Linked DNA regions of Homo sapiens. The protein of the gene in region 2 interacts with the protein of the main gene of each other region in a pairwise test. Each region holds a gene or a part of one and is shown on either strand. Other genes may lie near its edges.

Evidence for each region. Proteins that work in one complex are often made in the same cells at the same time.
Region 1: the proteins of BTBD1 (region 2) and RSPH1 interact in a two-hybrid assay, tested with the Homo sapiens proteins (one large-scale study listed by BioGRID and IntAct).

The regions. Positions count from the first base shown.
Region 1 is NC_000021.9:42,486,225-42,489,724, forward strand, and holds part of RSPH1 (radial spoke head 1 homolog), read right to left. Parts: intron 238-3,500; coding exon 147-237; intron 1-146.
Region 2 is NC_000015.10:83,036,253-83,039,752, reverse strand, and holds part of BTBD1 (BTB/POZ domain-containing protein 1), read left to right. Parts: intron 1-3,500.

The sequences.
Region 1 (3,500 bases), on a different chromosome or scaffold from region 2:
AGCCATAGAAAGATTGGACCTGCCTGGCAGAGTTGGTAACTGGGCTTTTGTTATGATTCTGTTCCTCAGTAAGTGTAAACAATCTGCAGACATCATGTTCTCATTACATAAGCAAATCCCGTTAAGACCCAAGATAGAAACCGAACCTTTGATGAGCAAACCACTCTCCAGTGTAGGTGTCATTATTGATGTAGTAGTATACGCCATGGCCGTGCCGCAGGTCATTTGCCCACTCTCCTGAAAGGAACAACACAAAGGCAAGCCCAGGTGAGAAGAAGGGATCGATGCCCTGTACCATGTCTTCAAATTGTTAACCATGGCAAAGGCAGATGTGTTGTGAAGCAAATGAAGCCCATGCACACACAGGCCCCTTCTGCTCAGGAAATCCTGCAGAAGAGAGATTTTTAACAGCACCGACCAAGGCTGCTATCTGTTTCCACTCTGACATCCCTCCACCCCTTCCTTTTGTGCCAGATGGCATAGGTGCTGAGCCACGGTGGACAGTGGGCTAAGAGAGGGCTGAGTCAGGAGTTCACGGGGTACAGAGTGAGGTGTATGGATGTGGGCCACAGCCACCTGCATGTACTGACAAGCACATTTCACAGGTTAGTCAGAGGCACCACGAAGATGCAACGAGGAGGGAGACAAACCAAGGTTGTCTGACCCATTGCCAGTGATCCTAACACCACACTTCATTTACCTTGCAAATGTTTAGAGATCCAGCAACAACTCCAGGGCTTGACCATCTATCCTCAGCCACCTGGCAGCATTTCAGTCTATCTCCCACCCAATCATCTGACTCCAACATGCCACTCTAACCCCAGCTGCACACCAGCTCCATCCGCTGGTGCCATGCCTCTGTTTGAACTCTTCCCTCACCTCCTCACCTCCATACGGCTTCTGCTAAGTCCTTATAGGCTTGGTAGGCAGTACTGAAATTGGCAAGGATATCATAAAATTCATAATACCACTCCATGATGTGGACAACTGCAAACTACTTTTGTCAACCACAGTATGAATCCCTGCACTAGAAAACTCAAAACGTCCTCAAATCTTACAGCTCACTTAGGAAAGAAACTTAATAGAGGTCTCCCAAAGGTGACTGCTCTTAAAAACGTGCATATTACACCAAGTCATTAAGCTAAATGATATGTTTTGAGACTATGAATAATAAAAAGCAAATGTTGATCAATTTGTTGATCAAAGAGAAAAGAAGGAATTATATTTCTATTCTCTCTATAGAAAACATTACAAAATGGTTGCCATATGGAGAAGCATTCAAAGAGTATTAGCTAACAAAGGTAGAGAAAAGCTATTCTAGAAGTATGTCAGACATTAAAACTCAGGCTACTTAGATTCTGTGATGTTTGTGGTATTTTTAAATTTTTAACTTATTTTGATTTATCATTGCAAATGAAAATTCACTTTTATACCAACTTTATATTTTCTTTTTTTTAAAGAGGTTCTCAAAACTTACATAAGCTTCTGGCTTACACAAAAACTGGACCCACTTCCACATGAAGATAAAGAATACCCAATAGGCTAAGAAAATGCTAATTATTCAAGTAATATTTGTTTATGTGAATAACCCCAAAATTTATCTGCAGAAGGAACTTCTACATATTTATTTCCTCAATCATCCCATTATTTACTCAGCACCTACAATGTCCTGGGCACTTTGTGAGATGAACGAAGAGCTGTACAAAGGACAGTGCATGTCCCCAGGGCGCGAGCACCAGCCTGAGGATGGAAGGTTGGCACCTGAGCAGCAGCTGAGGACAGGGAAGGCAGCACGAAAAGCTGCATGGCACAATTTCAAAAAGTGGGTAAGTCATTCAGAAAAGAGCAGGCTTACCAAAAATTCATGGAGAGAGGGAAGGTGGCAACTGCTAACAATTAAGGAAGAGGACTAGGTCCCATGATGTGATGTGTGACAGGAACAATGTGAACAAGAGAGATGAAGATCCCCAAATTGAGATAATTCAGTAAAAAATACTTCAGGTCCCTGAACCTAAATTAACCATGAGGATGTGCAAATACCTAGAGGGATTTGTCTGGGTCTTAAGGGGCAGTGATGTGCCTGGATTTGTAACATTTGCCAGGTTCTGTGGTGTAAATACTCACACCGCGGCCAATTTCAAGCTACACATGGAGCTGGGAAGAGATGCACAGAATGGGTTTTTGTGAGCTACTATGAGGGGGTTCCAGCACAGCCCTGGGGCATAGAGACCTCAGCTGAAACAGGTACATCATTTGGTTTCTTCCCAACAAAACTTCATGACAAAATTATTACATCCCTCCTCTCTTGGCCATGTCAGAGGATCTCCAGGGTGTCATGGTGAGAAAAATATATTACATATTTTGCAGAAAAATTTCAAAAATAAAAGAGAACAGTTAAGTTGCAAAAGACACTAAATTTTGCACCAAGAGGACGGTGAGCAAAATTTTTTAAAGTCCCAATCTACTTAAAAAACCTGTTAAGAGGCTCGGCCCAGCATTTTGTAATGCCACCACAGGGACCCTGCACAAATAGAGAAGGTAATTCAGAGAAAAGTCACCTGCTGAGGCACATCTCTAACAGCTATAAGTCAAGTTTCCTTTTTTGAGGTGAGTGACATTTGTAAACTTTATTATTGTGGCTTTAAATTTGCACTTAATTTTTTTTTTAAAGTCTTTCTACCCCAATCCTATACTTTCTGATCATTCTTGAACTTGTCAACTGAGGTTTTTTCCAACTATATTTCTTCTCAGGAGTAACTCCCAGTTGGTTGGTTGGTTGGTTGGTTGGTTGATTTGTTGGTTAACTGGTTGGTTGGTTGGTTGGCTGGTTGGCTGGTTGGTTAGTTGGCTAACCGATTGGTTGGTTGGTTGGTTGGCTGGCTGGTTGGTTGGTTAACTGGTTGGCTGGGTGGTTGGCTAGTCAGTTGGCTGGTTGGTTGATTGGTTGGCTGTTTGGTTGGCTGGTTCGTTGGTTGTTTGGTTGGTTGGCTAGTCAGTTGACTGGTTTGTTGATTGGTTAGCTGTTTGGTTGGCTGGTTGGCTGGTTGGTTGGTTGGTTGGTTGGTTGGCTGGTTGGCTAATTGGTTGGTTGGTTAGACAGTTGGTTGGTTAATTGGTTGGTTGATTGGTTGCTTGGTTGGCTAGTCAGTTGGCTGGTTGGTTGATTGGTTGGCTGTTTGATTGGCTGGTTGTGGGTCAGTTGGCTGGTGTGGAGCAGGTGCTCCTTGGGTAGAGCAGTTTGTCTGGCACTTGGGATTGAAGACAATTTAAAATGAGAAGCTCTCCAAGATGCTCCTCCCCCCTCAAATGCTGGTTGGTCACTGGTTTGCCATGCTGGCCCATGGTCTTGCCAAGTTGGCTCCCTAAACTGCTGGGTCAGCCAAACACAGGAGAGAAGGAGCCCACACTTATGGGGAAACACTCGGTGTCAGACCCTGGGCAGGGTTCCGTGCACTTGCCACAGCATTTGGTATGTGTAATCGCTGAAATATGGTTTTACA
Region 2 (3,500 bases):
AGGCTGGAGTACAGTGGTACAATCTTAGCTCACTGCAACTTCCACCTCCTGGGTTCAGGCAATTCTCCCACCTCAGCCTCCTGAGTAACTGGGACTACATACGCCCGCCCGCCACCAAGCTTAGCTAATTTTTGTATTTTTTGGTAGAGATGGGGTTTCACCATGTTGTGCAGGCTGGTCTTGAACTGTTGACCTGAAGTGATCCACCTGCCTCAGCCTCCCAGAGTGCTGGGATTACAGACATGAGCCACTGTGCCCAACCTTGGTAGTTCTGAGTTCTTTAAAAAATCTCCAAACTGCTTCCCACAATGGCTAACCTTATCTACATTCCCACCATCAGTGAACACGAATTCCCTTTTCTCTGTAGCCTTGCCAGCAACTGTTTTTTTTATTTTAATAGGCATTCTGAGGAGTATGAGGTGGTATCTCATTGTAGTTTGGATTTGCATTTCTCTGATGATTAGTGATGTTGAGGATTTTTTTCATGTTTGTTGGCTGCTTGTATATCTTCTTTTGAGAAATGTCTGTTCATATTTTTTGGCCCACTTTTTATGAGTTTTTTTTTTCTTATTGAATTGTTAAAATTCCCTGTAGATCCTGGATATTAGACCTTTGTCCAACACATAGTTTGTGAATATTTTCTCCCATTCTATAGGTTGTCCATTTGTTGGGTTGATAGTTTCTTTTACTGTGCAGAAGCTCTTTAGTTTAATTAGGTCCTACTTGTCAGTTTTTGTTTTTGTTGCAATTGCTTTTGAGGACTTTGTCATAAATTCTCTCCCAAGGCCAGTGTCCAGAAAAGTATTTCCTAGGTTTTTTTCTAGGATTCTTATAGTTTGAGGTCTTACTTTAAATCTTTAATCCATCTTGAGTTAATTTTTATGTATGGTGAAAGGTAGGGGTCCAGTTTCATTCTTCAGCATATGGCTAGCCAACTTTCCCAGCACCCTTTACTGAATAGAGGGATCTTTCCCCATTTTGTCAAAGATGAGGTGCTGTAGGTCTGCAGCTTTATTTCTGGGTTCTCTTTTCTGTTCCATTGGTGTATGTGTCTGTTTTTGTACCAGTAACATGCTGTTTTGGTTACTGTAGCCTTATAGTATAGTTTGAAATCCAGTGGTAATGTGATGCCTCCAATTTTGTTCTTTCTGCTTAGGATTGCTTTGGCTATTTAGGCTTTTTTTTTGTTCCATGCATATTTTAGAATATTTTTCTAGTTCTGTGAAAAATGATGTTGGTAGTTTGATAGAAATAGCATTAAATCTGTAGATTGCTTTGGGCAATATGGTCATTTGAACGATATTGAGTCTTCCAATCCACGAGCATATAATGTTTTTCCATTTGTTTGTGTCATCTGTGATTTCCTCCAGCAGTGTTTTATAGTTCTCCTTGTAGAGATCTTTTACTTGGTAAAAATATATCTAACCAAGATGTATGGATGTAAAAATACCTGGTAGAAATACATCTTAGTTAGATGTATTTCTAGGTATTTTATTTTTTGTGTGGACATGGTAAATGGGATTGCATTCATGATTTGGCTCTCAGCTTGAACGTTACTGGCGTATAGAAATGCTGCTGACTTTTGTACATTAATTTTATATTCTGAGGCTTTATTGAAGTTCTTTATCAGTTCCAGGCGCCTTTGGTGGAACTTTTTTTATTTTTTTGAGATGGAGTTTTCTTGTTTGTTGCCTAGGCTGGAGTGCACTGGCACGAGCTCAGCTCACTGCAACCTCTGCCTCCCGGGTTCAAGAGATTCTCCTGCCTCAGCCTCCCGAGTAGCTGGGATTACAGGTGCCTGCCACCGTGCCTAGCTAATTTTTGTATTTTTAGTAGAGATGGGGTTTCACCATGTTGGCCAGGCTGGTCTCAAACTCCTGACCTCAGGTGATCCACCCTGTCTTGGCCTCCCAAAGCGCTGGGATTACAGGCGTGAGCCACCGCACCTGGCCTGGTGGAATCTTTAGGGTTCTGTAGGTATAGAAGCATATCATCTGTGAAGAGAGATAGTTTGACTTCTTTTCTTATTTGGGTGCATTTTATTTCTTTTCCTTTCCTGATTGCTCTGGCTGGGACTACCAGTACTATGTTGAATAGGAGTGGTTAGAGTGAGCATCCTTGTCTTTTTCTAATTTCAAGGTGAATGCCTCTAGCTTTTGCCCTTTCAGCATGATGTTAGTTGTGGATTTATCATAGATGGCTCTTGTTATTTTGGGGATATTGTTTTGATGCCTAGTTTGTTGAGGGCTTTTATCATGAAGAGATGCTGGATTTTATTGAATGCTTTTTCATGTCTATTGAGACAGTCATATGGTTTTTATTTTTAACACTATTTCATGATTGTTTTGAATTGTATTACTTTTTATTTTTCGATTTTATTTTAGTTTTAAAGATGAAGTCTTGCCATGTTGCTCAGGCTGGCCATGAGCTTCTGGGCTCAAGTGATTCTTCCACCTTCACCTCTTAGCCAGTGTGCCTGGCTGAATTGTATTTCATTATGCTTATTGGCCTATTTATTTTCCTTTACATTATTCATGTCTTTTGTTGTTCTGTTGGTGTGTTCAAATTTTGTTTTACTGGTTTATCTTACATTGATTCTTTGTATATTTATTATTATACCAAATTTTTTTTTCTGACTTATACTTGTTCCAATTTTCTCCAAGATTGTTTTTGTTTTTGCTGATAAGAATCAGTGTTTGGGTTTTTTTTAAATAAACTTTTGAAATTAAAGTTTAACATCCATATAGTAAAATTAACAAATAAAGTGAACATACTTATTTAACCAATTTATCCTACTGTACTAGTACCCCAGAAGCCTTTGTCATGACCCTCTAAGTCACTAATCTCCCTCTGAAAGGTGACTACTTTCTGTCTTCTATAAATTAGTTGTGTCCATATGTAAACTTTATATAAAGGAAATCATATATATGGTGTGTATTCATTTTTGTGTGGCTTCTTTCTCTTAACATTACGCCTGTTAGATTCATCCATGTGGTTGAGTGTGGCAGTAGTTCATTCTTTTTCATTGCTTTATAATATTCTGTTATACAACTGTGCCATGATTTATCCATTTTACTGTTGTTGGATATATGGATTATTTCTGTTTGGGGACCATTGAGGCCATTCTTGTACGTGTGATTTGGTATACATACGTAAACATTTCTGTTGGATATATACGAGTGGAATTGCTAAGTCATGGAGTGTGCATATGGTCGGCTTTAGTAGATCCTGCCATCCTGCCAAACAGTCCCTTAAAGTGGTTGTAACAGTTTACACTCATCAACAAAGTGAAGAGACATAAGAGTTTGTTTTGGTTGCCCACATCCTCTCCAATACTTGGTATTGTCAGTTTTTGTAGTTCTAGCCATTTGTGTGGATGTGAGGACGTATTTCATTTTGGTTTTAAATTTCATATCACGGATGATTAATGATGTTGAATATGCCAATAATTTTTTAATCCAGTCTGACAGACTTTGTCTTTTATCTGAACTGTTTTGGTT